Regions from separate parts of the Homo sapiens genome. Here regions 2, 3, 4, 5 and 6 are each reported to be linked to region 1. The links are microRNA targets in miRTarBase. Many come from high-throughput screens and were not tested one by one. Region 1 holds a microRNA gene; each other region holds the end of a gene's coding sequence.
The links. Region 1 holds the annotated microRNA hsa-miR-663a (AGGCGGGGCGCCGCGGGACCGC, at 2,916-2,937, shown strand). A microRNA usually pairs through its seed, bases 2 to 8, with sites in the 3' UTR of a target mRNA and lowers its output. Matches are read on the target gene's strand: a 7mer-m8 pairs with bases 2 to 8, a 7mer-A1 pairs with bases 2 to 7 and ends in A, and an 8mer does both.

Region 1 (5,070 bases):
AAGCTTTGAGTTTCTGTTTCATTATTAAATAATTTATTTTATGATAGTGTTGCTTAACTTAGTGTGCAAGGCCTACAAATAAACCTAATAAATATCTTACAAACTACCTTAAAAGAAATCTAATGTTTTTCACTGAAGTATTTTTAAACATATTGAAGTTGGAATTCCAGGTAATTGTATACACACACACACACACACACAAAACACACACACACACACATACACACATTAGGTTTTCATTTGGTTTCTTTGTTCCTATTATTGAAATTACTATGCTAATAACCATATCAATTTATGAAACTCATTTTGAGAAAAATTGCCTAAAATATAACTCATTTTTAAAATTATTTTCTCTTAATTTATAATGTAATATTTTAATAAAATATGGTAGGGCAATTTTGTATAAATATTTATGCTAAGCTTTCTACATAAGTTACTGCATATAGTCTAGTTTTTAATAGAAGGTTTTTTTTTTACTTCAGTATCCACTTTAAAGTCATTGACATTTAGTGTTTTTTACTTTACAGTTCTAAGTTACTTATGCTTAAAAAGTCATCTGACTTTTAAGTTAATGTCCAACTTGATTGTTATCTCTCTATATCTTATTGATGTGTTCTTGAAAGTAGTTAGAATTTAAAAAACATTACTAAGAGGGTTTTTTATTTTTCATCTTTGGAAAGAAACTTGGGATAAATGGTTGTCTTTCATCTTTGTCCTCCTCTCTACTCACAACTCCCCGTTCCAGATCATTAGCTAAACTTGTGTGCTGAGGTTAATATTCTGTTTTACCTTTCTTGTCAAATTGCTAGATACAACTTTGTTCAGTTATATACTGTACAAACAGCATCTTAACTTTTTAATCTCTCTCTTTTTAACAAATGTGTTCACCCTCAGATTTGTTGTCATTTAGAAGAGGACTTCCTATTGGAAATATAATAATTTTTCTTCATGTGGAATCTTCAATACAAAAAAAAAAAACACGTATCAATGGTTTGCATGTGTCATGCTGATAGTTGGAGGGCAAATGATATTAGAAAAAGTAACACTATATTTCTGAACATAAACCTTGTTTCATCTTAGAATTTGGTGTTGAACCAATTTTGTACCTCATTGCTATAAACCTTATGTATCTAAAGAGTTGTTAATATGTGATTAACTGCCTTGGCCAAACTCAAAATCTTATTCACACATACAATACACACAGATAACTTATTTTTATTTGTTCGATCACTCCTTTAGTCCCTCATTTATTTCACAAACATTCATTGACACTTACGTGGCAGCACTCTTGTAAGAATAGAATATGGTGATGTCATGCTCTCCCTGGCCGTGTCCGAGCCGCGACGGGCGAGGGGCGGACATTCGTGGCGAATGGGACCCTTCTTCTCGTCCCGCCCGCGGGGGCCCCTTGTCTCTCCTCTTCCTCGCCTGCGGGTGGTGCGTTGGGAAGGCATGGGGTGCGGAACCCGGCCTGACCTCGCTGTCCCGCCCCCGCCTTCTGCCTCGCGGGGTGGGTCGGGGGGTCCTCTGACGCGGCAGGCACCCCTCGCTCTCGCCTCCTGTGGTTGTCGACTTGCGGGCGGCCCCCCTCCGCAGCGGTGGGGGTGCTGTCCCGCCGGCCCGTCGTGCTGCCCTCCCGGGGAGTTTGCGCGAGCGTTGGCTCCCCCTGGGCCTTTGCGGTGCTCCTGGAGCGCTCCGGGTTGTCCCTCAGGTTCCCGAGGCCGAGCGGTGGTGTGTCGTTCCCACCCCCAGCGCCCCCTCCTCCGGTCGGCGCCTCGGTGTCCGCGCGTGGGTCCTGAGGGAGCTCGTCGGTGTGGGGTTCGAGGCGGTTGAGTGAGACGAGACGCGCCCCTCCCACGCGGGGAAGGGCGCCCGCCTGGTCCGGCGAGCGCACGTCCGGTGCTCCCCTCTGGCGGGTGCGCACGGGCCCTGTGAGCGATCGCGGTGGGCTTGGGCTGGTGACGCGTGCGCCGGCCGGCCGCCGAGGGGCTACCGTTCTGCCTCCGACCGGTCGTGTGTGGGTTTACTCGGAGGTGCTTTGCCTCTGAAGAAAAGAGGCGGGTGGACGGGGTGGGGGGGGGGGTGGGAGGCGGGGGCTTGTGGAGTTGCGCTCACGCTCGCACCTGCCGGTCCCCGCCCTGACCGCGAACGCTCAAGGTTGCCGCACGCAGGTTTTTCCTGGTACCACAGGCCCCCTCCCTTCCCCAGGCCTCCCTGAGCGCCTCTGCGGGCCCCTCGGGCCCCACGAGGGGCGGCTGGCGGGTGGGGAGTGTGACCCATCCTCGGTGAGAAAGCCTTCTCTAGCGATCCAAGAGGTGTGCCTTGGGGTACGGGATCCCCCGGCCTGCCGCCTCTGTCTCTCTCTCCGTTATGGTAGCGCTGCAGTAGCGACTCGCTTGCAGAGGAACCCTCCTCAGCTTCCCCCTCGACGGGGTGACGGGGGGAGAGCGAGGGTTCCGCCGGCCACCGCGGTGGTGGCCGAGCGCGGCTCGTCGCCTACTGTGGCCGGCGCCTCCCCTTTCCGAGTAAGGGGAGGATCCCGCCGGCAGGGCCCAGCGTCCTAGCGGGTTGGGACGCGGCTGACAGCGAGCGATGGCTGCGCGCAGCGTTCCGTCCGGCGAGTGACCCCCCTCCGCCGCGAGTCAGCTCTCCGCCCGCTCCCTTGCCGAGTCGCGACCGGTGCGGACGACGGCGTTTGCGTGGCACGTGGTCGGGCCGCCTGGCCCTGGGAAAGCGTCCCACGGTGGGGGCGCGCCGGTCTCCCGGAGCGGGACCGGGTCGGAGGATGGACGAGAATCACGAGCGATGTGGCCCTGGCGTTGAGTTTGTGGCTGTGGTCGCTTCGGGGCCCCGGTGGCGGGACCAGGGGCTCGTGAGGCAGGTCTTGGTGGGTGCCGAGGGCCTTCCGGCGTCCCAGGCGGGGCGCCGCGGGACCGCCCTCGTGTCTGTGGCGGTGGGATCCCGCGGCCGTGTTTTCCTGGTGGCCCGGCCATGCCTGAGGTTTCTCCCTCAGCCGCCCCTCTGCGGGCTCCCAGGTGCCCTTGCCCTCGCGGTCCCCGGCCCTTGCCTGTCTGCGCCCCCTTCCCCGCCCGCCGCCCGCCGATCCTCTCTCCTCCCCGAGCGGCTCACCGGCTTTACGTCGGTTGGTGGCCGCGTCTGGGACCGAACCGGGCACCGCCTTGTGGAAAAAAAAGAATAGAATATACCCTGTTAAATCAGACATGATACTTGCTTTTGTGGAGCTTATGCTTTAGTGCAGAAACAGAAAGTCAAGCAAAAACTCAAACTATGTAACTTTAAATTGGATATGTGCTAATGAAGGAAAATGTGGCACTGTAAGAAAAAATAATAGGGAGTTAAAGGATAAATAGGAGTTTGCTGGATGAAATTTATGAAGAGCTGAAGATTTCAAACAAAAGAAACTGATGCAGGAGGGTGCAGCTTTGGAGTCAAGAATGAAGTTCTAGGAGATAGAGAGCAAAGAAATGGTGGGAGAGGAGGTCAAAGTAGGTAGGATTTTATATATTATCAATGGGAAAATATTGAACAATCCTAAGCAGAAAGGCAATGATATATGTTCATCTTCATTACAAATTCTTATATTTTTAGTAGACCTGTTTTCAGGCAAAACTTCATAAGAGAATAGTAACAAAGAGAAAAAAAGCAGTGGTCTCAAATTATCTCTAACTCACCTGATGACTTTAAGTTAAATGGCCTCAACATTTTGTGATGCTTTTCCTTCTTATAAAGTAAGGAGTTTAGATGAGGTGAGGTATCCAATTTCGTTTAGCTTCAATTTCCCGTAATTCGACTGCTGTCAAGTCATGCTTTGCTTTGTTCTGTTTGTGAGCCAGAGTAACTTTAAGGTAGTATATTAACTAGAATAACTATTTCTTTACTTTTAAACTTCAAAATTATGATGACATAAGAAGTGTTTCAAAGAACATTTAGAAAGTAGATAAATGAAAAATTTTTAACATTTTGGAATGCTTCTTTTATTTCTTTTTGAAACCTAGGTTTTTGGTGCTAGTGGTGATATTTATTTTTTGCCAAACTAACCATTCTATGTAATTTTGTAGCATTTTGGGTTGATGACCACCGTAAGTCTAGTATTCCCATATGTGTTAAAATTTATCTTTACAATTAATATATTTTCACTGAATTATTTAATTAAAAATTAAACTACAATTTCTAATACATGTTCAATGAGATATCATTAGGCATTACCTGAAAAGGATTTCTGGAGAAAGAAAGAATTTCTGGTTAAAAAAAGGTTGAACAGGTTTTCCTAGTGCAGTTCTCTCGGTCTCTAGGATGGAGCTACAGCATAAAGTAGCTTCCAAATTTACTTCACAAATTAGCCCTTAGATTTCAAGAATTACTTGTAATTTTTTTTTATAGAGCACAGTTTCTTTGCTCTTCAGTATTACACTTGCTTATGTGAGTTCCTAAAACTAAGTTTAATTTTGGAAATTCTTAATTTTATATTTACATTTTGAGTTGTGTTTAAATAAAAAATTAAGTTTAGTAAAAAGCTAGGTTTTTATTTCCACCTACAAATTCAGTGTCCCATCAATAGAAAAAAAATTCTCAATAATATTTTAAAGTTACTTACTTTAGTATTTGTCATTAAAGAATAAAATTTACCAGGCAGAAATGCCCCCAGAAGCTACCTATGGAGGAAATATAAATATTATTATTACCTACTAATATTAACATACAAACTAGTCAATTATGGTATAGCAGTTAAATATACATAAAAGTTAAATATTTATAAATGATACAGGACTCACATGTTTGTATGCCTGTTGTGCAGTCACAGTCTGATAAATTGATAAACAGAGTTTGCAGTAGAGAAAGAGTTTAATGATTGCAGGGCAGCTGAGTGAGGAGATGCGAGCACCCTCGAATCTGTCTTTCCAGAGAGTACTTGGCTGGGGTGAAGGGATTGTAGAGGACCAGGGGCTGGAAAATTGGGGTCACTGACTGGTTTGGTTAAGGGGGATTAAATCACCAGGATGTAGAAACTTTGCCCTTTAGTGAGTCGGCTTCTCCTGGAGCCCTTCGGAG
Region 2 (5,070 bases), not on the chromosome of region 1:
GGCTGGGGCACCCAGTCACCTCTGCCCTGGGGACCACCCACCCACCTAGCGTGGAGGCCGCGTCTTCCTCTCGCCCGCTGCTACCTGAAGAGGGAACAGAGCTGCAAATTCAAGAGAGAGAAATCGGACCCTGGCTTCTGGCGGCTTGCCCTCCCTCCAGGTGTGTGGGACCACTTATGTGGACGCTGGAATGTGCTAGGAGGACAGGGCCCAAGCTGGGACTGCTGCCCCCGCCTTACCCTGACACAGACTCTGGGGACGTCGTGGGGGCGGATTCCTCTGATGGGCTCTTGTCCTCTCTGGCGGCAGGTGGGGGATGGGACATGCCTGAGGTGGGGGCAGGCGGGAAGGATGTAGAGGACTCTGGGGCAGCTGTGGGTGAGGCCTCTGGGGGTGCTGAGGTACCCTGGCCGGCTTTGGTCTGCAACAGCAAGAAAAAGGGAGCTGGCATCAGCAACCCTATCAGACCCAACAACCCGCTCCGCTGTGGCCCCGCCCTGTTCACAGCTAATCTCTCCTGGGCACACAGGCTCTTTGCCAGCTCCCCAGCTCGTCCACCCACCCTCCCAGCCAGCACACGTCACCCACCTTGGTCACCATGACGACCACAAAGTTCTTCTCATCGATGCGATAGTCCCTGATAGGGACATCGTCACTCAAGATCTTGCCGGCATAGATGAGTTTCTGTCCAGCCACGGGGAAGGCATCACGACCCTTCTCAGCTTCTATCTTCTCCTTTAGCACCTTCACCTAGAGGGAGTGGTACAGACAGTCACTGGAGACCCCAAGATTCTCTTTTCCCTTCTAGTTTAGGACAGAGAAACTGCCAGCCCTGATGGCAGAAAGGCAAGCACGCTGGGTTTTTTAAGCTTTCTCAGCATCTAAAGCATGCTAGATTTGAATTCATTCAATCATCATGCCATTCAACACAGTATTTACTTATACTAAACACCCATTATGTGCCAGGTGCTGTTTTAGACACAGAGGCCACAGCACAGAACAAACTCAACACAAGTAAGTCCCTGCTCTCAATGAGAGAACACTAATGTGAAGAAAATGTAATTTCGGGTAGTATAAAGTATAATTAACAGAATAAAGGGGACAGTCCCCCACTCTACACTCTACCTTGGACAATAAGTGACTAATAGTTAATAGTGATATTTTTTAATTTTAAGAGGCAGGATCTCGCTGCCGCCCATGCTGGATTGATGTGGCACGATCATCGCTGACTGCAGCCTCAAACTCCTGGGCTCAACTGGTACTCTTGTCCAGCCTTGGGAGTAGCTAGGACTAAAGGTACACACCACCACTCCAGACTAATTAAAAATAATTTTTTTTTGTAGATAAGAGTCTCCCTATGTTAGACTGGCTGGTCTCAAACTCCTGGCCTCAAGCAATCCTCCTGCCTCTGCCTCCCAAATCATCAGGATTAGAGGCATGAGCCACCGTGCCTGGCCAATAGTGCTACTGTAAATGTATATGTGTCATACCTTTTAAGTTTCCTATGAAATACGTTTAATTGGTCTCATTTTATTTATTGATTTTTGTTTCTTTTTTTTGTAGAGAACGGGGTCTCACTGTGTTGCCAGGATGATCTCGAATTCCTAGGCTCAAGGGCTCCTCTTCCCTCTGCCTCCCTAAGTGCTGGGATTACAGGCGGAAGCCAGCAGGCGACCGGTTCATTTGATATTTGAGAAAACGGAGGCACAGACAGGTAGGCAGGTTAACTTGCCCAAAGCCAAACACTTGAGCGGATCAAAAAATGTGTGTTTCCTTTTCTACAAAAAGTGGACTTCAATGTCTCCCTCACTATGCAAAAAGCGCCAAGTACCCAATAGACATTCAGTATGTTTGAATTAGGTCCTAATTCTACTTTTGACTAAAAAGGCAGCATAATATTTATATCGTGGACGCTCACACGAGGCAGAACCGAATTTGAATCCCAGCTCTGCCATTACTTGTGTGTGACTGTGGCAAAGTTCCTCAATCCCTAGGTTTCCACATCTGTAAAATGATCAGAGGTCCCCAATGACAAGCCCGTTTTGCAGAGCGGTAAAACAACACTACAACACTCGGTGACTGATAAAAAGTAAACGGCCAACAAACACGGACCACCAAAATTATAAAGACTGAGACCCGTTTATTATCATTAACATCGTTGTTGTCGTCACTACTCAGTATCTCCTGGTCATTACTCCTAGATTCGACCACCAGTGTCCCAAGGAGACGCCTGCAAAGCTGGGAACGTGGAGCCCAGTCTTGGAGAGCTTGGCCTGCCCAGGAATCCGAGCTTGTGACTCCCGCGCCCCGCGAGAGCGCTGACATTGGAGCCGGGGCCTGGCCAGCGCCCCGGGGGTGGGGCCTCGCCCGGAGACCGGCGCAGGAGCGCCGCCCGATCGGCTGGGGGCTGGGCCAAAGACCATCGGGGGGTCCAGGAAAGTCGGGCAGGTCGGGGGTCTGGGCAGGGCCGACCCGCGCCGTCCTCCCTGCCCCTCCCGTTGGGATTCTAGCCTCCCCGCCCCCACCCCACCCCCGAAACCCGTCGCTCCCGCCCCCGGGCTCCGGCCCGGCCCGCACCGTCTCGTCAGGCTCCATGCGGATCTTGAAGGTCTGCTGCTGCAGCGTTTTGAGCGTGATGGTGACGGCCATGGCGGGGCCCGAGCGACGCGGCGGCCCCGGGATCCTCACACAACATGCAACTCACGCCGCCGCCATCTTAGCGCCCAGGCGCGCCGCGCCGCGCGCCGACCACTTCCGGGGCAGGCAATGCGCGCGCTGACCACCGGCGCACGTGACCTGCGCACTCCCTCCTTGGCCTTTGTGGGCATGCGCACGAGCGCGTTCTCGAGCGAGGCACGCGCAGACTAAACTCCGCGCTGTGGGCGGGGCTTCTTGCTCGGCCCGCACACGTGGTCTCCTGAGTGACGCCATGCCCGTTATCGGTGACGTCACGGGGCTGCAAAGTGACTCTGGTGTCCCCACTCTCACGCTCAAATGAATTTTTAACAAAGTTTTTATGTACCTGTACTGGTTACAGACATTTGTATTTCTTCTGTAAAAACCTCATTTTGCCTCTTCCAAATGAGAATTTTTTCTTTCAAACAGTCTCTGTCACCCAGGCTGGAGTGCAGTGGCGCGATCTCGGCTCACTGCAGCTTCCGCCTTCCGGGTTCATGCAATTCTCCTGCCTCAGCCTCCCGAGTAACTGGGATTACAGGCACCCCCCACCACGCCCGGATAATTTTTTGTATTGGGTTTCACCGTGTTGGCCAGGCTGGTCTCAAAACTCCTGACCTCAGGTGATCCACCCGCCTCGGCCTCCCAAAGTGCTGGGATTACAGGCGTGAACCACCGTACCCGGCCCCCAAATGAGTTTTATTCTGGTCTGGGTATCCTGGCAGGAACCCTTGTAGAGCAGTCAAAGTGAAAGTTACTCAAAACTAGAAATACCTGAAAGGCCACCAAGCACAGAAAAAAAACCTTAAGTTGGAAGCGGGGGCAAGGTGCCATTTTGTAGCCTCATTCATTCTTTAGGGATCTGGAGTTTTGGAATGAACCTACAATTTTCATTCTTGGGTCTCCGGGCAGGAGTACTTTGTTGTACTATACCTAATCTGACCCCAGAAGTATTTAAAGATGTTAACTTTCAAAGCCTCACTACATTAAATACAGAATTCTCCCTTGGATCTACCAGTCCTGGAGGCATCCCAGAGGGGTTGGGCTGAGCCACAGGACCCCAAAGGAATAGAAGCATGAAAAAGGCCAGTTTAAGGGGCAGGGTGAACCAGATTGAGCCACTGTACGCCAGCCTGGACAACAGAGCGAGAGTCTATCTTAAAAATAAATAAATAAGCAGAACCAAAACTTACCAGTTAGGTTCAAGGATTCAGTAAGTTAGTATGTGGAGTATTTACAGCAGCAACAGCCATTCCCCCGTTGGTTTTGAGGGTTATGGGGTAAATAAGGGTCCCTGGAATCTTGTGGAACACTCAGCAACCTCTCTAGCAATAGCTGAAAAAGGAGATATACTGGAAACCCCCCCCCCCCCCAAAAAGACCACTGCTGGGTTTCCTTAAGTCTGTCTTTCCCCAGAAGGAGACACAGGAGGGAGACACAAAATTTAATTTAATAGAAATTTTGTTTGTAGTTCTTACATTCTCAGTGTGAGCCAATCTGGGACCCACTGCCCCACCCAGAAGTGGCCCAGTCCTGGGGGCAGGGGAGAAAGGGAGGGGTGAAATGAGAAGAGCCCCGTTCTTCCTCAGTGCTGGGGGGTTGGAGACACCACCCCCTTCTGCTGCCCTCCTCTGGGCTCCAGGAAGGAGAGCAGATGAAATCTCAGGCCTGTGGCTTCTCCACACCACTGCCCCCCAGGTTGGAGGGGAGCTAAGAGATGAGAGAAGGGGACAGAGGCAAGAAAAGATGTTGATCAAGAAAGATGAGAACCAGGGGTGAGGGCTGAAGGAGAATCAAAGATAAAATACCAGTTTAAAAAAAAAAAAAAAAAAGGGCGGGGAGGGGGTGGGGGAGAGTGGAGGAGGGGAACAAAACCAAAATCCACCCCAAATCCGAACCAGCCTGGAAAAAAATGAAAGTTCTCGAGTCTCACAGAGACATTATTTGGCGCGGCCAGCTCTGCGGCAGGAGCGCTCAGGCCTCAGTCCAGCCCTGGAGGCAGGCCTCTCTACAGCTCGTCCTTGGCCTGGCCGGGGACATCTTCCTCCTCATCTTCCTCCTTGTCCTCCTCATCCTCCTCATCCTCATCTTTGTCCTCATCATCCTCCTTGTCCTCTGCCTCCTCCTCCTCTTTGCGTTTCTTGTCTTCTTCCTCCTCCTTAAGCCTCTGCTCCTCGTCCTGTTTGTCCTTCATTTGTTTCTCTGCTGCCTGCAGGCAGAGCACACACCTCAGGGCCTTGCCCCCTGCCAGCCCTGCCCGCCCCCGACATCAGGACCAGGACCAGGCCTCACCTTTGTTACGCCCCACGTCTCGTTGCCAAACTCCTCAGCGTATGCCTCATCGTTGGTGATGAGGAAGTTGTCAAAGATGGTGCCAGACTTGACCTGGAGGAT
Region 3 (5,070 bases), not on the chromosome of region 1:
GATCACTTGAGCTCAGGAGTTCGAGACCAGCCTGGGCAACATGGCGAAACCTCATCTCTACAAAAAATACAAAAAAATGTAGCCAGGTGTGGTGGCAGGCACCTGTAGTCCCAGCTACTTGGGAGGCTGAGATGGGACAATTACCTGAGCCCAGGGAAGTTGAGGCTATAGTGAGCTGTAATCATGCACTCCAGCCTGGGTGACAGAGGGAGACCCCGTCTAAAAAAAAGAAAAGAAAGAAAAGATGGGTGGACCCCCACCAAGGGTCATCTCACTCAAAGGGCAGGAGGCTGAGACCCAATTCAGGGGACTACTGGAGGTCATCAGCCCTGCTTGGTTTCAGGGTAACCGTGGGCTTTGGTGTCAGGCAGAGCTGGATTCAAACTTACTGGTTTGTCTACAACCTACCAGTTGTATGACTCTGGGTAAGATGCCCAACATCTCTGAGTTTTGTCACTTGCCTGAGTAGGTAGTGCCGGTAGCTACCTCACCGATGGTTGTGAGGGTTAGGCAGGACACCTCCTGGAATGCCAAGCTGAGAACTGGTTTTTTTTGTTTTGTTTTTGTTTTTTGAGACAGGTTCTCGCTCTGTCATCCAGGCTGGAGCGCAGTGGTGCGATCTTGGCTCACTGCAACCTCCACCTCCTGGGTTCAAGCGATTCTCATGCCTCAGCCACCCGAGTAGCTGGGATTACTGGTGTACACCACCCCACCTGGCTAATCCCAGGGGCCCTGTTCTGTCCTCCCCCTCATGCTCTGCCAGCTGAAGGCCAGTGGCTGCCAGGGATTCCCCACCTGCCACCCCACCCATCCCAGCACCTTCCAGATCCTCCAGGGTGAAGCAGAGAAATAATGAGACATCAGCCTATAGGAAGGAGATCCAGGAGAGGAAAAAGAAACAAGTTTTATTAAAGCCCCAAACACTTGGCTAGAAAAACTGAAAAGGAAAGAGAGCAGGGAGCGGGGGAGAAGAAAAAAGGACATTAAAAAAGAGAGACAGAGAAAACACAGCAACCCTTTTCCATTTAGAAATTGTCAAGTTACACCGACAGAGGTCACAGAATATCCACAGAAGCCATCACTGCTACACCAACATGGGCCCTACAGGGTGGATGGGGCAGGGTGTGGAGCCGGGGCTCACCCCGGGGGGCCCCCTGGGGACCCCACTCAGAGCCTCAGGCCTGAGGCTCCTGGGGAAACAGCATATTGTGGAAGGGGCAGGAAATCCCCCATGCGAGTAACACAGCACAGTGGGCGGGGGCTGAGAGGACCAGGTACAGGGGTCCCCCGAGACGTCTTAGTTTTCTCTTGGTCAAGCACACACTGATGGACAGAGCAGCGAGGCGCATGCAGCTGGGGGCACTGATGTGCTGCAGGCTGTGAGAGGGCCAGCGGGGACGGGGGCTCAGGAAGGGATCTGGAGCCAGTGGTGCAGGGATGATGGAACACACGCACACAGAGGCACACCCACACACTTGGGTCTGCACCAGCACACATACCTGCACACACACACTCGGAGACACAGATTACATGCACCTCCATGTATGCGTCTCTATCCACATGTACGTGGCCCACACACAAGTCTCTGGCTCTCGGCATGTCTGCACACACATTACACATGTTCTCACACACAAAGCTCCTCTCACGCTAACATGCAGGTAGGCACGTGCCAATGCCCAAACAGGTTACATGCACCTATGTGCCCACGCCTTCCCCCACACATGTGCTCGGCCATGCCTGTGGGTGCAGGCCCCATGCGTCTGCACACACAGTGCATGGGCTTGTGCCAGCACACACACAGGCTGCACGCAATTCCACACGGATGCCTCCCAGCCCATAAATGTGCAGGAACCAAAGAGAAAGAAAGATGCAAATCCCACTGGGCTTCACCCGAGCGGGTGGGGCGGGGCACGTGGCTCCCTCCTTCTGCCCCTTCGTGGATGGACACTGCCCCCCCCACCTCCCCCACAAAGGGACATTCAACTCAGGACAATGACGGTGGGGCACACATTCCAGTCACAGGGCTGAGGGTGGGAGCTGGGGGCAAGCGAAGTAGCAAGCAGAGAGTAATGGAGTGGAGGGAGGAGGGGGCACCACTCCCCCCTCCCCTCCCAAGTCAGGGGGTCTCTGTACAGCCAAATCAAACCAGACCATTTCACTGGGACCACAGAAGCCAGGCCGACGTGCCCGCCCCCCAGCCCCCCTCCCCCGCCAAAACAGTGGCCAGGGAGAGTGCCGTGGTTTTCTTTTTTTTTTCTTTTTTAAATATTTATATATATTTATATTACGTATATTATATATATAATATGTAAATATATTTTTAAAACAATATAAAATGTTAAGACACTTCACTTAAATGTAAAGAGTTGCCTGCAATTAAAAGTAATTGCATCATTTATGAGGTCCTTTTTTTTTTTTCTATTTTCCAGGGTTTTTTTTTTTTTCCAGGAGGGATTTTTTTTTTCCTCTTTTGTTATTTTTCAAAAAGGCTTGCTCGCCTTGGTACAAAAATGATCCAAAGCTAGAAAACAAGGATGAACCAACAAAGGCAAAAACAAAAAAAGAAATGAAGAAACACAACCCGTTTCCCCTCCCCCCAAACCTTCAACAGCTCCCAGCTCTCCCCAGGTGCGGACCTTCCCCAGCCAGGCCCCAGGGTCTGGGGGGCTCTGCCTTCTGCGCAGCTCCTCCTTTCTGTGCTTGCTATGGGGGACTGATTCTAGTCCCCCTCCCCTGTGCTTACTTCACTTTGTGCTCCAAGTGGGAATCCTGCGGCCGGGGACCCCGCTCCTCCTCCTCCTCTTCTCCTATCCTCTCCCTACCGGCTCCTCACTGTGCCCTCTGGGGGGCCAGGAGTGAGAACCAAAATTGGCCTCTCTCTGCCTCCCCAGGACCCGGCCAAAAGCCAGGCGGCACTGCCAACCGCCTCTGCAGGGCAGGCAGGGCGTCCACAGGCCAGGGGCGCTGGCTGGATGGTCAGGCCTCAGGGACCTTCAGACATCTCACCAGGGTCACCAGAGCCCCATTGAAAAACTACGTCTCATCCTTTCCTGGGAAAACCCTCAAATTGCCAAGAGGATGACTGAAGTTCAAGTCACCCCACCTGCGGGTCCCAGGTGTCTTCAGTGCTCCCCGTCAAGCCCCTCTCGACCCTCCCATTTCCCTCAAACCAGACCCTTCCCCCAACTGCAAGCCACAAAACCTGGTTTTCTAGGCCCCTCACTCTTGCCCACCCCATCCCCATTCAATAAGTTAATGCCATTTAAAGTGCTAAATCAGGAAACTAAAAGTACCAAATACCCGTCCGGGCCGCCCTCTCCCAAGGCAGTGTCCCCGATATCCGGCTGTCCGTGCAACCCACCCTCCACAGCCAGCAGACCAAAGGGCCTCTGCCCTCCACTCCCCACTGGACGGCAAGGCCCAGGAGGCCAGCGCCTCCCCAGGGATACAGACTCCATGGCCTCACACCCACCCTGAGGCCTCTCAAACTCCGGCCTCGTCTCCAGCCTGTCCGTCTCTACTCCAGGCCCACTTGGGTGTGAGTGGGAGGAGGCAGAGCAGCCACAGAGGAAGTCACAGTCTTGTCGGAGCTTAGACAGGGAGTGGGGCATCTCCAAGGCCAGTCTCCCTAAGCCCCGCTCTCTGGCTTGATGTATGGGTTGGTCCGATGTCCCCGCGTTCCTCCAGGAAGGTATCGAGAAACGGGAGAGGGGTCTCCCACTGCTCCAAGTCTCCGTGGTTCAGAGTTTGTTTGGAGTATTCTTGGGAAGTGAGGGGAAGGCGGGAAGGGGGTGCAGGAGCTTCAGGATGGACTGGGGGAAAGAGTGGTGAAAGAGAAGAAGGAGAGATGTGACAGGTGCGGCCAGCGAGAGGCCAGCTGGGATCAAGGAAGGTGGTGTGTTTGGTTTTTAGTTTTACTGTTTAAAAAAAGATAATTAAAAGTTAATTGTTAAAAAAAAAAAAAAAAACAAAACCAAAAACACCAACAGATGATGGGTAGGGGTCGCTGAGGAGGGCCGCACCCTCCTCTTCAGGGCACACCCCTCAGGGCGTCTGGAGAGTAGGGTGGGGTGGGGTGGAGATGAAGGAAGAGAGGGGAGAAATGGCAGGAGTGAGGGAGGGGGACAGGCGGGGCAGCGGGGTGAGGGGCTTCTAGAAGGAGATGGAAGAATTCCTTGCCCCAAAGGAAGTCAATACAGGGATAGAGGTTCTGGAAGCCGAGGGCTTTTCTGAGACTGGGCTCGAGGTCTCATTCGACCCGCTCATCTCTTTAGATGGTTTAGTGGCCTGGAACAAAAACAGGGGTCAGGGGTCAGAGAGCGGAAGGGAGCGCCTCCATGCTGGCCCCCAGCTGAAGTTTTAAAAGTGGAAAACCTCCACAAATCCAAGGAAATTAACTGCAAAAGGAAGAAGCCAGAGGGGCATCTGGAGAGAGGGGTCCCTTGAATGGTGGAGGGGTGGGGGCAGAAAAGGGGGGGGAGGGGGCACGAGGTTGGACAAAGGGCCTGGGTGGTCAGAGGGCAGGCCCATAGTTACTGAGAGCAGAGAGAGAAGCAGAGCGACCAGAGAAGCACAGAAGAGGCCGCGCCCAGGATGGGCAGATGGGGAGGTGGGGGTGGGGGAGGGCAGGGGAGGGGAGGAAGAAGTGAAACATTAGCTGGGACAGGGGCACAAGCCCTGCGGGGGACGGGGGTCAGGGTGGGGAAAGGCTCCTAGTCCCAAATGGCCCGCTGTACAGCCAGAGCCCCTTCCAGCTTCATCCTGGTGGCAACAGAGGAGGGGGCTTATCCTCCCAGGGGGGAATAAACACTTCAAAGACCCCGTCCACCACCACCACCACCACCACCTGGAAATCTGAGAAGAAGGCGCTGCCGCACCAGCCTCCCGCCCAGTGCAGGAGGCCCCACTGCATGCCCTGCAAGCACTTGTCGCCCCAGTTGGTAACAGGAGGCTACTCCCTCATGACTTGTCCTGCCCTCACTGGTCAGTTCTAGTGGTCAGAACTGACCCCTCATCCTCCTCCCACCTTCGGTGGACTCCCGCAACTCCACCGGTCCTGGAGGCTTTTCC
Region 4 (5,070 bases), not on the chromosome of region 1:
CAGCGGACGACGTGGTCAGCATCATCGAGGAGGTGGAGGAGAAGCGGAAGCGGAAGAAGAACGCCCCTCCCGAGCCCGTGCCGCCCCCCCGTGCCGCCCCCGCCCCCACCCACGTCCGCTCCCCGCAGCCCCCGCCCCCCGCCCCCGCTCCCGCACGAGACGAGCTGCCGGACTGGAACGAGGTGCTCCCGCCCTGGGATCGGGAGGAGGACGAGGTGTACCCGCCAGGGCCGTACCACCCTTTCCCCAACTACATCCGGCCGCGGACACTGCAGCCGCCCTCGGCCTTGCGCCGCCGCCACTACCACCACGCCTTGCCGCCTTCGCGCCACTATCCCGGCCGGGAGGCCCAGGCGCGGCGCGCGCAGGAGGAGGCGGAGGCGGAGGAGCGCCGGCTGCAGGAGCAGGAGGAGCTGGAGAATTACATCGAGCACGTGCTGCTCCGGCGCCCGTGACTGCCCTTCCCGGTCCCGCCCCCGCGCGCCCCCGCCGCGCGCGCGCGCCGGCGCCCCCCTCCGTGTTGCCCGCTCCCCCTCGGTGTTTGCATGCGCCCCGGCCCTGCCCCTTGGCCCTGCCCCTGTCCCCGGGCTGCGTCGGGACCTGCCAGACCCCCCTCCCGGGTCCTGAGCCCGAACTCCCAGAGCTCACCCGCGGGTGACCGGGGGCCAGCCCAGGAGGGCGGGTGGTTTGTGCGAGTTCCCTTGCCACGCGGGGCCCCGGCCCCATCAAGTCCCTCTGGGGACGTCCCCGTCGGAAACCGGAAAAAGCAGTTCCAGTTAATTGTGTGAAGTGTGTCTGTCTCCAGCCCTTCGGGCCTCCCACGAGCCCCTCCAGCCTCTCCAAGTCGCTGTGAATTGACCCCTTCTTTCCTTTCTCTGTTGTAAATACCCCTCACGGAGGAAATAGTTTTGCTAAGAAATAAAAGTGACTATTTTATTAGGACTTTGTTCTCGGTTATTCACCCGTCCCCTTGGGCCTGTGTGGTCCTTCCCAAGGGGCGGTGAGGGAAGCGCCAGCCACAGTCCCCGTCTCCTCCTGCTTCCTGCCCCCAAACTAAGGCAAGGGGTAAGTGGGGAAAGTCCTCAAACTGTTTTTAGAGGAGAAGAATGTGGCTCGCACCCATTAAGAAACCCGAAATTCCACTTCCAGCTTGGGGGCTGGTGGTAAAGTCATCTTTCCCCAGGGCTTGACAGAGAGAGGCCCAGCGGAATGCAATAAAAGAGCCAATTGTCTGCGATCAGTCCAGCGACCTCTGGTTCAAAAGAAAAAGGCGACCCGCAGAAGGTGCCACAACTCTGGGTGCCAGTGGGCTCCTTTTTCCCAAGATCCTGGGGCCGCGCGGGTAATGCCGGAGTTTCCTGTGTTCACCCACCCACCTCCCTCCACTGATCCCTACATTCCTGGTCCTAGGTACTTTGCAAGAAATGCGGGGAGGAGGGAGTGGCAGCCACAGAGACATGCTGGCTAAAGCCACTTCTTAACTTTTTTTTTTTTTTTTTTTTTGAGACAGGGTCTCACTATGTTGCCCAGGCTGGAGTGCAGTGGTGCAATCACAGCTCACTGCAACCTCGACTTCCTGGGCTCAAGTGATCCTCCTACCCCAACCTCCTGAGTAGCTGGGACTACAAGTGTGCACCATTATGCCCAGCTAATGTTTGCATTTTTTGTAGGGATGAGGTTTTGCCAGCTTGCTCAGCTGGTCTGGAACTCCTGGGCTCAAGCGACCTCCCCACCTTGGCCTCCCATCTTAAGCCTTTTCTAATCGCAGGTACTTGTGAACTGATTCAAATAAAACTAAACTGGGCAAACGAAATCACCCACAACAGACCCGCATCCTGAAGAGTTGCTCCTCCTTCCATAAAGGCAGCTCAGGGAGTTGGGGGCAGCCCGTTTGGAGACGCATTGGGCATAAAAATCCGTTTAAGGTAGGGTGGCCAGATAAAATACAGGAAATGAAATCTGAAATTCCAGATACACAACAGATGCAGTTTTAGAGTTAAATGTGTCCCAAACACTGCATGCAACACATTTATCCCTAAAATGATTTGTTGTGTATCTGGAATTCTCATTTAACTGCGTGCTCTCCGTTTCTTCCCAAGGCTGGCAGGATCCCCTTGGCCTCCCGATGATGCCAGCAGCCCTGCCTTCCTTCACAGAGCCCAAGGCCAGCAAAGTCCAGAAATGCTTTTACTTTTATTTCAGAAGAAAGGACATAAAGGCAGACACTTCCCCCTCCCCCTCCCCACCCCTCCCAGCTCCTGCCTCACCCAGAACTGGAGTGAAAGGCCAGGGCCAGGACCAGGGTCCCATAAAGCTTGCCCTTCCCCCAACCCTTCCTTCCCTCAAAGTGGCAAGGTTAGAAAAAAATTAACTATGTTGTTCCTCCCTGGCACTGGATAAAGGCCCCACTGCAGCCAAGGAGAAAGAGGGGGGTCCAGGCTCCCCTCCCAGGCAGAGAAGCTGCCTGGCTGGCTAGGGGGAGGGTGGAGGTAGGTTATGGGACAGAGAGGACAAGAAGTGCCCTGAACACCTTTTCCCTTTAACCTGACATATTTATATATTTACAGTTATTAGGGAGGGAAGGACATCTGGGGTGACATCAGTTCTGCAAAGGCAGGGAATAAAAGCCAAATAGCACCCCCATCTGGGTCACATTTTCCTGCCTCCTAGCTTCTAAAACCTTCAGTGGGAAAAGGGGAAAGTGGAGGTAGGGGGTGGAGGGAGGGAATGTTTGAAGGGCCTGAGCCCACAGCTCACTCCGAAAGGTGAGGCAGCAGAGGAGGGGCAGCCGAGTCCCACCAAGAACAGGGCCCTGGGCAGAGGAGAAGCAGCCGTTCCCGCCACGCTGCCAGGACCCCATCGCCACACCCCGGCCCAGCAGGGGCTATGCCAAACCCATCTCCTCCAGCACACTCCGTGGCGACTCATCCTCCTAAGGCAGAGACAGACAGAGGGTGACGCAGAGACACCAGGAGAGGCCGACAGGGTGGGCAAGACAGCAGTCACGAGGAAGAGTCAGACGGGGGAGGCACAGACACGGGGGAGGGGGAGAGAAGCCAATGTGAGCCCAAGGCCGGACCAGTGAGCCCTTCATGGGGCACCCACCAGCCTCCCAGGGCCAGCCCCAGAGCCAGCCAACAGTGGCAGGGGGGGTCCAGGTTGAGTCCGTCACCACCCAGAGAACCCAAAGCCAGGACCTTGGTAAGCAGGGGCCCCGCCTTGACACCTGGGGGTAAAGGGAGTGAAGCCGGGACAAGGAGGTGGGGGATCTTTCTGGGGCCCTGGGGGGTACAGCTGACTGGGTCCTGTTTTTCAGAGTGGGGAAAAGGCAGAGGGAGGTGAGTGCCAGGTCCCTGAGGGAAGGTGAACCAGGCTGCAGGGAGATGCGTCATTAGGGTCTGAGCGCAACACTGGTGACACGATGGGTGTGTGTGCCAGGGCATGTGTGTGTGTGTGTGTGTGTGCGCGCCAGGGTGTGTGTGTGTGCGTGTGTGGGAAGGTGAAGCTCGACCAGTGAGGTGGCAAGTTCAGTTCTGCCCTCTCTCCCACTGCAAAGATGAGCCCTCCCTCGCCCCCCATCTCTCCCCCTCCTCAGAGCCAGCTCAGGCCGGGCTCGCTCATCACTGCAGATTCCGGTGACTCATCTCCCTGCACCAGGGCTCGGTGATGGCACAGCAGAGAGGGGGCAGGCAGTAATGGGGTGAGGGCGGGGGCGCTGGGGAGCAGGGAGAACCAACATCCAGGTGCCCTCTGCCAGCCCCCAAATCCCCATAGCCTTTTCCTCCTGAGACGCAGAGGCTTTGGAGTATGTGTGTGTTAAAAAAAAAAAAAAGAAAAAAAAAAGAGAGGTGGGGGAAGAAATCAGGGAAGAAAAGAATGACCTACCAGGTGCCCCTTCTCCAATTCTCCAAGCAACCCTTAACTCCAGAGCAAACCCTTAACCCTTTGGTGTTAAGCCTTGCTCAGAGAATTGGACAAAGGAGACTGGGTGGCCACGAGACATCTGGGGGCTTGGGAGAAGGACAGAGCTTGGAATGAGGGGTGCACAGGTGGGCTATCTGCCACCCTACCTCCCACCCCATGGGGTCAGGGCTTGAGAGTAAGCTGGAGAGCTGGGCGTGGTGGGGGTCAGATACCACAGGGAGGGGGGGCTCCTTGGCGACGGTGGGCAGGGCAGGCCGGGTGTCCAGGGGAGGGAGGACCCTGTCCGCCACTGTGCGCTTCCTCCTCCTCCTCACTGTCCCTGGCCCGTACCTCTTGCAGTAGGTCAGCCTGCTCGATGGCTTTCAGCACACTCTTCTTGGAGGTGTCCTGGACATCCCCCCCCATCAAAAACTCATCCAGGATGAAGTAGGCCTTCTCAAAGTTGAAGATGATGTCCAGCTCGCACACCTGGGAGGGCGGGGAGAGGCTAAGTTGAGCATGGAGGGGCAACTGGAGCCACTTCCTTTTCAAGACCGTGCCTCCCACCTTGGGTTCTGCCCCCAACCTCCAAGCCTTAGTCATTGGTCAGCTTTTTCAGTTTTTTTGTTTCGTTATTTTGTTAGAGACAGGGTCTCTTGCTCTGTCGTCCAGGCTGCAGTGCAGTGGCATGATCACAGCTCACTGCAGCCTCAAACTCCTGGGCTCAAGTGATCCTCCTGCCTCAGCTTCCTGAGTAGCTGGGACTACAGGTGCATGCTATCACGCCCACCTCATTTTTAAAATATTTTGTAGAGATAGGGTCTTGCCATGTTGGCCAGGCTGGTCTCGAACTTCTGGCCTCAAGTGACCCACCTGCCTCAGCTTCCCAAAATGCTGGGATCACAGGCGTGAGCCACCGCGCCTTGCCTTGGATCAGTTTTTTTCCCTCTTCCTCTTGCATCTTTCCTCCTGATCATGAAACATTAGTTGCCTTATCTACCTTTGTCTATGGTTCCCCTTGCCTTCCCCCCAAAATCTGTGACGTTCTTCCCACCAAAGGCTGTGGTAGCCCCGCTTCCTGGACACTGTGGGGCAGGGAAAGAGGGAATTCTGGACCATGGGGTGGAAGACTTGAGTTCCAAGCAGGGCTCTGCCACTAACCATCTA
Region 5 (5,070 bases), not on the chromosome of region 1:
TGGCCACCAGGACTCCATCTCAGGAGGTGTTTTTTCTCAGCCCGGGGCTGCCTTCCAGCAGCAAGTCCAAGGGAGCCATGACCCGAGTTTCCCGGTCACTGACATGCTTTTTTCTCCTTCCTCTCTCTCTTCTGTGACCTGGCCTCCCTGGCCTCAGGAGACAGATCAGTTGGAGGAAGAAAAAGCAGAGCTGGAGTCGGAGATCGCCGAGCTCCAAAAGGAGAAGGAACGTCTGGAGTTTGTGCTGGTGGCCCACAAACCGGGCTGCAAGATCCCCTACGAAGAGGGGCCCGGGCCGGGCCCGCTGGCGGAGGTGAGAGATTTGCCGGGCTCAGCACCGGCTAAGGAAGATGGCTTCAGCTGGCTGCTGCCGCCCCCGCCACCACCGCCCCTGCCCTTCCAGACCAGCCAAGACGCACCCCCCAACCTGACGGCTTCTCTCTTTACACACAGTGAAGTTCAAGTCCTCGGCGACCCCTTCCCCGTTGTTAACCCTTCGTACACTTCTTCGTTTGTCCTCACCTGCCCGGAGGTCTCCGCGTTCGCCGGCGCCCAACGCACCAGCGGCAGTGACCAGCCTTCCGATCCCCTGAACTCGCCCTCCCTCCTCGCTCTGTGAACTCTTTAGACACACAAAACAAACAAACACATGGGGGAGAGAGACTTGGAAGAGGAGGAGGAGGAGGAGAAGGAGGAGAGAGAGGGGAAGAGACAAAGTGGGTGTGTGGCCTCCCTGGCTCCTCCGTCTGACCCTCTGCGGCCACTGCGCCACTGCCATCGGACAGGAGGATTCCTTGTGTTTTGTCCTGCCTCTTGTTTCTGTGCCCCGGCGAGGCCGGAGAGCTGGTGACTTTGGGGACAGGGGGTGGGAAGGGGATGGACACCCCCAGCTGACTGTTGGCTCTCTGACGTCAACCCAAGCTCTGGGGATGGGTGGGGAGGGGGGCGGGTGACGCCCACCTTCGGGCAGTCCTGTGTGAGGATTAAGGGACGGGGGTGGGAGGTAGGCTGTGGGGTGGGCTGGAGTCCTCTCCAGAGAGGCTCAACAAGGAAAAATGCCACTCCCTACCCAATGTCTCCCACACCCACCCTTTTTTTGGGGTGCCTAGGTTGGTTTCCCCTGCACTCCCGACCTTAGCTTATTGATCCCACATTTCCATGGTGTGAGATCCTCTTTACTCTGGGCAGAAGTGAGCCCCCCCCTTAAAGGGAATTCGATGCCCCCCTAGAATAATCTCATCCCCCCACCCGACTTCTTTTGAAATGTGAACGTCCTTCCTTGACTGTCTAGCCACTCCCTCCCAGAAAAACTGGCTCTGATTGGAATTTCTGGCCTCCTAAGGCTCCCCACCCCGAAATCAGCCCCCAGCCTTGTTTCTGATGACAGTGTTATCCCAAGACCCTGCCCCCTGCCAGCCGACCCTCCTGGCCTTCCTCGTTGGGCCGCTCTGATTTCAGGCAGCAGGGGCTGCTGTGATGCCGTCCTGCTGGAGTGATTTATACTGTGAAATGAGTTGGCCAGATTGTGGGGTGCAGCTGGGTGGGGCAGCACACCTCTGGGGGGATAATGTCCCCACTCCCGAAAGCCTTTCCTCGGTCTCCCTTCCGTCCATCCCCCTTCTTCCTCCCCTCAACAGTGAGTTAGACTCAAGGGGGTGACAGAACCGAGAAGGGGGTGACAGTCCTCCATCCACGTGGCCTCTCTCTCTCTCCTCAGGACCCTCAGCCCTGGCCTTTTTCTTTAAGGTCCCCCGACCAATCCCCAGCCTAGGACGCCAACTTCTCCCACCCCTTGGCCCCTCACATCCTCTCCAGGAAGGGAGTGAGGGGCTGTGACATTTTTCCGGAGAAGATTTCAGAGCTGAGGCTTTGGTACCCCCAAACCCCCAATATTTTTGGACTGGCAGACTCAAGGGGCTGGAATCTCATGATTCCATGCCCGAGTCCGCCCATCCCTGACCATGGTTTTGGCTCTCCCACCCCGCCGTTCCCTGCGCTTCATCTCATGAGGATTTCTTTATGAGGCAAATTTATATTTTTTAATATCGGGGGGTGGACCACGCCGCCCTCCATCCGTGCTGCATGAAAAACATTCCACGTGCCCCTTGTCGCGCGTCTCCCATCCTGATCCCAGACCCATTCCTTAGCTATTTATCCCTTTCCTGGTTTCCGAAAGGCAATTATATCTATTATGTATAAGTAAATATATTATATATGGATGTGTGTGTGTGCGTGCGCGTGAGTGTGTGAGCGCTTCTGCAGCCTCGGCCTAGGTCACGTTGGCCCTCAAAGCGAGCCGTTGAATTGGAAACTGCTTCTAGAAACTCTGGCTCAGCCTGTCTCGGGCTGACCCTTTTCTGATCGTCTCGGCCCCTCTGATTGTTCCCGATGGTCTCTCTCCCTCTGTCTTTTCTCCTCCGCCTGTGTCCATCTGACCGTTTTCACTTGTCTCCTTTCTGACTGTCCCTGCCAATGCTCCAGCTGTCGTCTGACTCTGGGTTCGTTGGGGACATGAGATTTTATTTTTTGTGAGTGAGACTGAGGGATCGTAGATTTTTACAATCTGTATCTTTGACAATTCTGGGTGCGAGTGTGAGAGTGTGAGCAGGGCTTGCTCCTGCCAACCACAATTCAATGAATCCCCGACCCCCCTACCCCATGCTGTACTTGTGGTTCTCTTTTTGTATTTTGCATCTGACCCCGGGGGGCTGGGACAGATTGGCAATGGGCCGTCCCCTCTCCCCTTGGTTCTGCACTGTTGCCAATAAAAAGCTCTTAAAAACGCATTCGCCAGGCTACAGTGTTTATTTCCTCCTAACACCCATTGCCTGGCTTCCTTTTAGTAAGAGAGGATGAGGTTAGATTGTCGAAGGACTACACACACACAGAGATCATACACCCATGCACACACACACACAGACACACACCTATGCAGGAACTCCTTCTAGTCAATGGGTCTACAGCAGGATAAAAGGAAGGCAGACAGTCAGGAGGACTTCCTGTACTCGCAGGCAGTGCCTCCTACTAGAAAAAGTAAGTGGCTACAGCTGGGCGCAGTGGCTTGCGCCTGTAATCCCAGCATTTTGGGAGGCCAAGATGGGCGGATCACTTGAGGTCAGGAGTTTGAGACCAGCCTTGCCAAGATGGTGAAACCCTGTCTCTACAAAAAATACAAAAATTAGCCTGGTGTGGTGGTGCACACCTGTAATCCCAGGCTACTTGAGAGGTTGAGGCAGGAGAATCACTTTAACTTAGGAGGCAGAGGTTGCAGTGACACAAGATTGCACCACTGCACTCCAGCCTGGGTGACAAAGTGAAACTGTCAAAAAAAAAAAAAAAAGTAAGGGGTCAGAAGGTTAGCCTGCAGGTGTGGGATCACAGAGGTGTCCTAGTGATGGAGCTTGTATGCTCTATGGGTTAAAAACAGACGCTAAGGAGATAAACTATACACAGAAGAAGCTTAATGGGCTGTGCACAGTGGCTTGCACTTGCAATCCCAGCTCTTTCGGAGGCCGAGGTAGGAGGCTAGGAGTTCGAGAACAGCCTGGGGCAACATAGTGAGACACCCCCCACCCCAACCCATCTCATTATGTTGAGAAAAAAAAAAAAAAGAGGATCTTGAGAAACTTGCACAGCAAACTACTAAAGACCACTCAGGCTAGGAATGAGGCGTCATCTTGGATTTTTTACAAACTACAACTACAAAAAACAATTATTTTACACTGAAGATGTGTTTCCTTTTGTTTTCCATATGACCACTATTGGGGCCAACCCAAGACTGACTGAAGCAAATATATGACCATTTTTTTTTTTTACACATAGAGTGGAGCCATCCCCATTGCAAAATCCTAGCCGTCTCTTATTTGCATAACAGCAAGTCCTCTGGGAATTGAGGTGAGGGTCCAGGGGTCGCTCAGACGCTTTGGTAAATCAATAAGCAAGGGAATTTGTCATGGTGGAATCCATTTATTAATTCACTCAAAAAAATGTGCTAAGCACCTACCCAACTGTGCTGGGAGTTGGGGACACTATAGGGACTGAGCCTCAGGTCTTGCCCTCCTGGGGCTCACAGTCCATTGGGGGACACACACCGTTGCCAGTCAGGGACAACCTAAAGTGGATTGGGTTTGGGAAGCCCATGGGGCTAGGGAAGCACAGCAGGGACACCTAGCTTGGACTGGGAGTCGGGAAAAACTTCCTGGCGGAGGGGACAGCTGAGCTGAGTCCTAGAGGAGGATAGAGAGTATAGAAAGAAATAGAAAAAGGCCAAGGCCAAGAAAATAGCACAGCCATAGATCTGTTGGTGGGGAGAAGGCTTGATACATTGAGAACGCTTAGAGGGTCGGGTGCGATGGCTCATGCCTGTAATCCCAGCACTTTGGGAGGCCGAGGTGGGTGGATCACCTGAGGTCAGGCATTCAAGACCAGTCTGGCCAACGTGGCGAAACCCCGTCTCTACTAAAAAATATATATATATATATACAAAAAATTAGCTAGGCATGGTGGTGGGCACCTGTGATCCCAGCTACTCGGGAGGCTGAGGCAGGAGAATCGCTTGAACCTGGAAAGTGGACATTGCAGTGAGCTGAGATTGTGCCACTGCACTCCAGCCTGGGCAACACAGCGAGACTCTGTCTCAAAAAAAAAAAAAAAAGAAAGAAAAAAAAGAGAAAACTCAGAGATTCGTGGAGACTGGAACCACGGGTGTGGAGAGAGGGGTTAGTAGAGACCAGATTCTGCAGGTACTATAATGACATTCCCAGGCTAAGGAGTTTAGATCTTTTCTTCAGGGCACTGGGGAGCTATTGCAGGTTTTGAACACGAGAGGGGCAGGGGCAGGTTTGTGATTTAGGAAAGACCCCTCTGGCCCCAGACTGAGCGTGACTGGAAGGGAGAGGAGTGAGACTGAGCAGGAGACCAGGGAGGAAGTGGGGTGGGGACCCTGCAGGGTGGGGTGAGGAGGAGTCCAGAACAGGGCCAGGGACATGGGACAGAGAGGAGGGGAAGGATTCAGGAGACACTCGGGAGGCAGGACAGTTGGGCTTGGTGAGCAGCCGGCTTGGGAAGGAA
Region 6 (5,070 bases), not on the chromosome of region 1:
GCTTCCTAACCTCTGTGCTTCAGAGAGGGCCGGGAGTGGTGGCTCATGCCTGTAATCCCAGCACATTGGGAGGCTGAGGAGGGAGGATTGCTTGAGCCCAGGAGTTCGAGACCAGCCAGAAAAACAAGGTGAAACCACGTCTCTGCAAAAAATACAAAAATTAGCCAGGTGTGGTGGTGCACGCCTGTGGTCTCAGCTACTCTGGAGGCTGAGGCAGAAGGATTGCTTGAGCCCAGGAGGTCGAGGCTGCAGTGAGCTATGATTACACCACTGCACTCCAGCCTGGGCGATAGAGTGAGACCCTGTCTCAAAAATAAAAATACAAAAATATAATTCACATACCATACAATTTCCCTTCAAGGCCAGGCGCGGTGGCTCATGCCTGAAATCCCAGCACTTTGGGAGGCCAAGAAGGGAGGATCACTTAAGCCCAGGAGTTCAAGACCAGCCAGAAAAACAAGGTGAAGCCACGTCTATGCAAGAAATACAAAAATTAGCCGAGTGTGATGGTGCACACCTGTGGTCCCAGCTACTCTGGAGGCTGAGGTGGAAGTATTGCTTGAGCCCAGGAGGTCGAGGCTGCCGTGAGCTATGATTGCACCACTGCACTCCAGCCTGGGTGACAGAGTGAGACCCTTTCTCAGAAATGAAAATAAATGTAATTCACACACCATATAATTGCTCTTCAAAGCCAGGTGCGGCAGCTCATGCCTGTAATGCTCCCAGCATTTTGGGAGGCCAAGGCAGGTGGATCACGAGGTCAAGAGATTGAGACCATCCTGGCCAACATGGTGACTAGTAAAAATACAAAAATTAGCTGGGCGTGGTGGTGCACGCCTATAGTCCCAGCTACTCAGGAAGCTGTAGCAGGAGAATCACTTAAACCTGGGGGGAGGTGAAGGTTGCAGTAAGCCGAGATGGTGCCACTGCACTCCAGCCTGGGCAACAGGGCAAGACTCCATGTCAAAAGAAAAAAAAAAAAAAAAAGGCTGGGCACGGTGGCTCATGCCTGTAATCCCAACACTTTGGGAGGCCGAGGTGGGCAGATCAGGAGGTCAGGAGATTGAGACCATCCTGGCTAACACGGTGAAACCCCCGTCTCTCCTAAAAACACAAAAAATTAGCCGGGCGTGGTGGCGGGCGCCTGTAGTCCCAGCTACTTGGGAGGCTGAGGCAGGAGAATGGCGTGAACCCGGGAGGCAGAGCTTGCAGTGAGCTGAGATCACGCCACTGCACTCCAGCCTGGGCGACAGAGCGAGACTGTCTCAAACAAACAAACAAAAAATTCCCTTAAAAAAATTATGCACCTGTCACCACTAATTCCAGAACATTCTATCCAGCCCAAAGGATGCCCCATATCCATTTGTGATCACTCTCAATCCCCTTCTCCACTCTCCAGCACCCGTGAATCCCCTTCCTGTCTCTGTGGATTGGCCTGTTCTGGACATTTCACAGAAATGGGATCACACGCCTCGTGGCCTTTGGTGTCTGATGTCTCTCACTAAGCATGGCATCCTCAGAGTTCGTCTGGGCTGGGGGCCTGTGTTAGAGCCTCGCTCCTTTCCATGGCTGTCATTCTGCAGTGTGGATGGCCACACTGCACTGATTCACTCCCCGGCTGGACATGGGTCATTGCCACATTTGGCTGCTGTGCACGTCCGTGAGCACATTTGTGTGGACGGACGTGTTCACTTACCTTGGGGACACGTCTAGGGCTGGCATTGCAGGTCCCACGCTAACTCCACATTTAGCCTCAACTGTTTCCAAGGGGCTGCACCACGTTATCTTCCCCAGCCATGTGGACTGCAGCTTCCCTGACCCTCGCTGCTGTTTTTGATGCTAGCTGTCCTGGTGGGGGTGACAGGTATCTCACCGTGCATTTGACTCACATCCCTAACATCTCTTCATGTGCTCATTGGTTGTCTGTATATATATTTTTTTGAGACGGAGTCTCGCTCTGTCGCCCAGGCTGGAGTGCAGTGGCGTGATCTCAGCTCACTGCAACCTCCGCCTCCTGGGTTCAAGCAATTCTCCTGCCTCAGCCTCCCGAGTAGCTGGGACTACAGGCGCCCGCCACCACGCCCAGCTTTTTGTATTTTTAGTAGAGATGGGGTTTCACTGTGTTAGCCAGGATGGTCTCGATCTCCTGACCTCAGGTGATCCACCCGCCTCGGCCTCCCAAAGTGCTGGGATTACAAGCGTGAGCCACTGCACCCGGCCCTTTTTTTTCACCTTACAAAAGCAAAACATTTGTGTATCGTCTTGGCCACCCAGAGACATGGACGATCCTGGGACCTGAATTCCATGTACAGCCCAAGTCCCTTCTCCCATTCTCCCAGCGTGGTGGACACCAGGCCCAGGCAGTACAGTACACAGTAAAACTGGCCTCATTCAGGTCGGGCATGGTGGCTCATGCCTGTAATCCTAGCACTTTGGGAGGCTGAGGCAGGAGGATCACTTGAGGCCCAGAGTTCAAGACCAGCTTGGGCAACACAGCAAGACTCCCTGTCTCTATTAAAAATAAGTAAATAAATAAAAATCTGCCTCATTTGACCACGAGCAGCACCTTTTGAATTCTGAAGCTGAGGCAATAACCAAGAAAGAGAGATGTGGGTGAGGCTGAGTTTCTGTCCTTCCCCCAACTCCGCCCCCCGACTACAGGGTACACACTTAAGAGACACAGGGCACAGAAAAGCGGACGCCTGGATGGCTTCACCTCGACCTTTTTTATTTGCATTTTTTAAAAACAATTAAATTAGAATACAAATATTAGAAAACAGCGGCCTTCAGCTGCCCGTGCGGGCGGGAGGGGCCGAGCTGCGCAGCGGGCTGCGGGCTCTGCAGTGAGACTGAACTGCCCTCGGCCAGATGCACGTCCCTTTCTTTAGACCTGAAATGATATTGCTTCCTGACTAGGAGTTCTGTTTATACAAAGGAAAATTCTGGGCTGGGGAGGACAAAAGCAAAACAGACCGCAGGCAGCGGTGTTGGAGAACCAGGTGAGGCCGGTGCCCCGCCTGCGCCCCGGTCTCCTGCGGGGCAAGGGGGGTGCCCAGCTGTGGGCTCCTGAAGGCAGAGCCCTGGTAGCTCCCCCAGTTGTTGGACCCTGAGGCCAAGGGCATGGGTGGGGCCTGCGAGGGGCCGGGAACGCCTGGGGACAGGAAGGAGGCCCCTGGTCTGGTCCTGCTGGAAGAGTGAGGCTCCCGGGGGACAGGGTGCCGGGCCAGCCTCGTACCCGTCGGAAAACCAAGAGCAAAAAGGAGAGGAATCAACCCAAACCGAGAGCCGGGGTGGCCGGGGTCCCTGCTGCCCCTTGGGAAGCGACCGCAACCCATGCCCCAAGGACCGGGGTATGGTGGCGGCGGCGGCGGCGGCAGCTGTGGACATCTGTGGACATCTGTGCTGTTCCGTAGGGAAGTTAACCTGAATTGGAATTACCGAGGTAGCTGGCTAGAAAACTGAGACCCCCCCACGCCACACGGTGCCGCACCCTGGGCCCCCGCCTTCCCCGGGGGTTCCTGACCACACGCCGGGTCTTCAAAATACCAAATTATTGCACTTTCAAAAAATACAACACATCTGTGGCTAAACCCTCCCCAGCCGCCCACTGTACCCCCATCCTGCCCACCCATCCCCCCACCCTACTGCCCCTCCCCGCCCCAACCCACTCCATGGCTTCTCGGCTAAAACGCTCGCTGCTCGGCGCGTGAGGGTCTCTGGGCGAGGATGCATTTGCAGAGAAAAAGCAAAGGAAGAGACAAACGTCAAAGTGGTCGCCAGAGAGGGGCTGCGCCCCACCGCCCGCCGCCCGGGTCCCCGCGCACTGGCTGGAATGGTCGTGGGCAGAGGGCGGCGGGCGGCGGGGCATCCGGAGGGGAGGGCGCGGGGCGGCGTCCTGGTCCCTCCCGCCCACTACCCCTTCCCGGCTCGGACTCCAGCCGGGGAGGCGGCTGTGTGGGTGGCCGGCCTTGTTTTTAAGAGTTTGACTTTTTTGTTTCATTTTTCTTTTTTGTATCTTTTTTTGTCATTTTACTTTTTTTTTTAATCCCCCGATAGGAGAGTCCAGAGGTACAGGTGCCAGGAGCCAGGCAAAAGGGTGGAAAAACAAAACGAACGACAATAAAAAGAAAAAGAAAGGTCACTCCTCCCTCTGCGCCCGAGGCTGGCCCGTGCCCCTCTGCGTGGTGAGCACCAGGAAAGTCGAGTGTGCGGCCGGGGTCAGCAGGCCGGCACCAGGCCCTTCTGGAAGGGGCAGCGGCGCTTGGGCCGGGGCCCCTCTTCGTCCTCGTCTTCCTCCTCCTCTTCCTCCTCCTCCTCATCCTCCGAGGACGATGAGCTGTCCAGCGTGAGGTCCACCACATCGGCGCCCGGCTTCCCATTCTCCATGCTGCCCACCGGGCCGCCGCCACCCGTGCTGCCCAGGGCACCGCTCCCGTTGACGCTGGGGGCGGGCAGGAGCCCATTGGCGTCCGAGGGGCCTACGGGCAACAGGGACAGGGTGCAGGTACTTAGGATGCAACCACTGATAAATGGGGAAACTGAGGCGGCCCTGGCTGCGGACTGCGCGGCTGGTGGGGTGAGGCACTCACCCAGCACGAGGATGGCGCCCTGCGGGCTGCAGCTGCGCTCCTTTTCGGCGCGGATCGGGCACCACGAGCCGTCCACCAGGTACTCGATCTCGTCGGCGTCCTCACACTCGCTCAGGATCTTCGAGAGGAGCCTGGGGCGAGGCGGACAGCTGACGCCGGGGCTGGAGGTGCCCCACCCCCCCAACTCCCCAGCCCTCCATCCCTCCCGGATGCAGCCAGGCACTCCCCACTTCTCTCTGCAAGAGCAGCCTCACCACCCCGACCGCAGGGGTCCAGGGACCCCGCATTCCCTCCCCCGCCCTCAGGCCCCTGCAGGTGCTGAGCCCCAGGCAGGTCTGCAGTGCACGGCACTGCCGGGGGGACGGGGCATGGACACACATACCCAGTGGCCCCCAACTACCCACAAGAGCAGGGAGTGTGGCAGCTGCAGGGGTCCTCCCCACCCTGCCCCTCTGGGCACCTCCGGGTGTGCACGCATGTT

Region 2: the mRNA of CALR is a reported target of hsa-miR-663a. Seed matches in the 3' UTR shown: 7mer-m8 at 4,510-4,516.
Region 3: the mRNA of SRCIN1 is a reported target of hsa-miR-663a. Seed matches in the 3' UTR shown: 7mer-m8 at 4,128-4,134, 7mer-m8 at 1,903-1,909 and 7mer-m8 at 1,254-1,260.
Region 4: miRTarBase lists VGF as a target of hsa-miR-663a. Seed matches in the 3' UTR shown: 7mer-m8 at 485-491.
Region 5: miRTarBase lists FOSB as a target of hsa-miR-663a. Seed matches in the 3' UTR shown: 7mer-m8 at 1,980-1,986.
Region 6: the mRNA of PIAS4 is a reported target of hsa-miR-663a. Seed matches in the 3' UTR shown: 7mer-m8 at 3,859-3,865.

The regions. Positions count from the first base shown.
Region 1 is chr20:26,206,110-26,211,179 of GRCh38, reverse strand. It overlaps MIR663A (microRNA 663a), which reads left to right and starts at 2,902; the gene lies at 2,902-2,994. It overlaps MIR663AHG (MIR663A host gene), which reads left to right and starts at 1,947. Exons shown (of 5, transcript NR_040095.1): 1 at 1,947-2,057. RefSeq lists enhancers at 1,484-2,044, 2,928-3,429.
Region 2 is chr19:12,943,528-12,948,597 of GRCh38, reverse strand. It overlaps CALR (calreticulin), which reads right to left. Exons shown (of 9, transcript NM_004343.4): 8 at 4,969-5,061; 9 at 4,109-4,885. The coding sequence ends at 4,685. It overlaps RAD23A (RAD23 nucleotide excision repair protein A), which reads right to left and starts at 2,736. Exons shown (of 9, transcript NM_005053.4): 1 at 2,578-2,736; 2 at 589-750; 3 at 240-421; 4 at 46-101. The coding sequence starts at 2,649. RefSeq lists enhancers at 120-1,319, 2,635-2,854, 2,266-2,958 and silencers at 1,949-2,243, 2,215-2,274, 2,295-2,484, 2,495-2,574.
Region 3 is chr17:38,529,145-38,534,214 of GRCh38, forward strand. SRCIN1 (SRC kinase signaling inhibitor 1) reads right to left here. Exons shown (of 19, transcript NM_025248.3): 19 at 887-4,287. The coding sequence ends at 4,153. Among named protein-coding and RNA genes, the nearest start is that of SRCIN1, 74 kb to the right of the region's middle.
Region 4 is chr7:101,158,381-101,163,450 of GRCh38, reverse strand. It overlaps VGF (VGF nerve growth factor inducible), which reads left to right. Exons shown (of 2, transcript NM_003378.4): 2 at 1-942. The coding sequence ends at 455. AP1S1 (adaptor related protein complex 1 subunit sigma 1) reads right to left here. Exons shown (of 5, transcript NM_001283.5): 4 at 4,255-4,392; 5 at 2,175-2,932. The coding sequence ends at 2,885. It overlaps MIR4653 (microRNA 4653), which reads right to left and starts at 3,978; the gene lies at 3,896-3,978. RefSeq lists silencers at 14-63, 624-713.
Region 5 is chr19:45,472,394-45,477,463 of GRCh38, forward strand. FOSB (FosB proto-oncogene, AP-1 transcription factor subunit) reads left to right here. Exons shown (of 4, transcript NM_006732.3): 4 at 158-2,786. The coding sequence ends at 619. Among named protein-coding and RNA genes, the nearest start is that of TRU-TCA1-1, 3.8 kb to the right of the region's middle.
Region 6 is chr19:4,037,024-4,042,093 of GRCh38, reverse strand. It overlaps PIAS4 (protein inhibitor of activated STAT 4), which reads right to left. Exons shown (of 11, transcript NM_015897.4): 10 at 4,590-4,720; 11 at 2,708-4,478. The coding sequence ends at 4,219. Among named protein-coding and RNA genes, the nearest start is that of ZBTB7A, 27 kb to the left of the region's middle.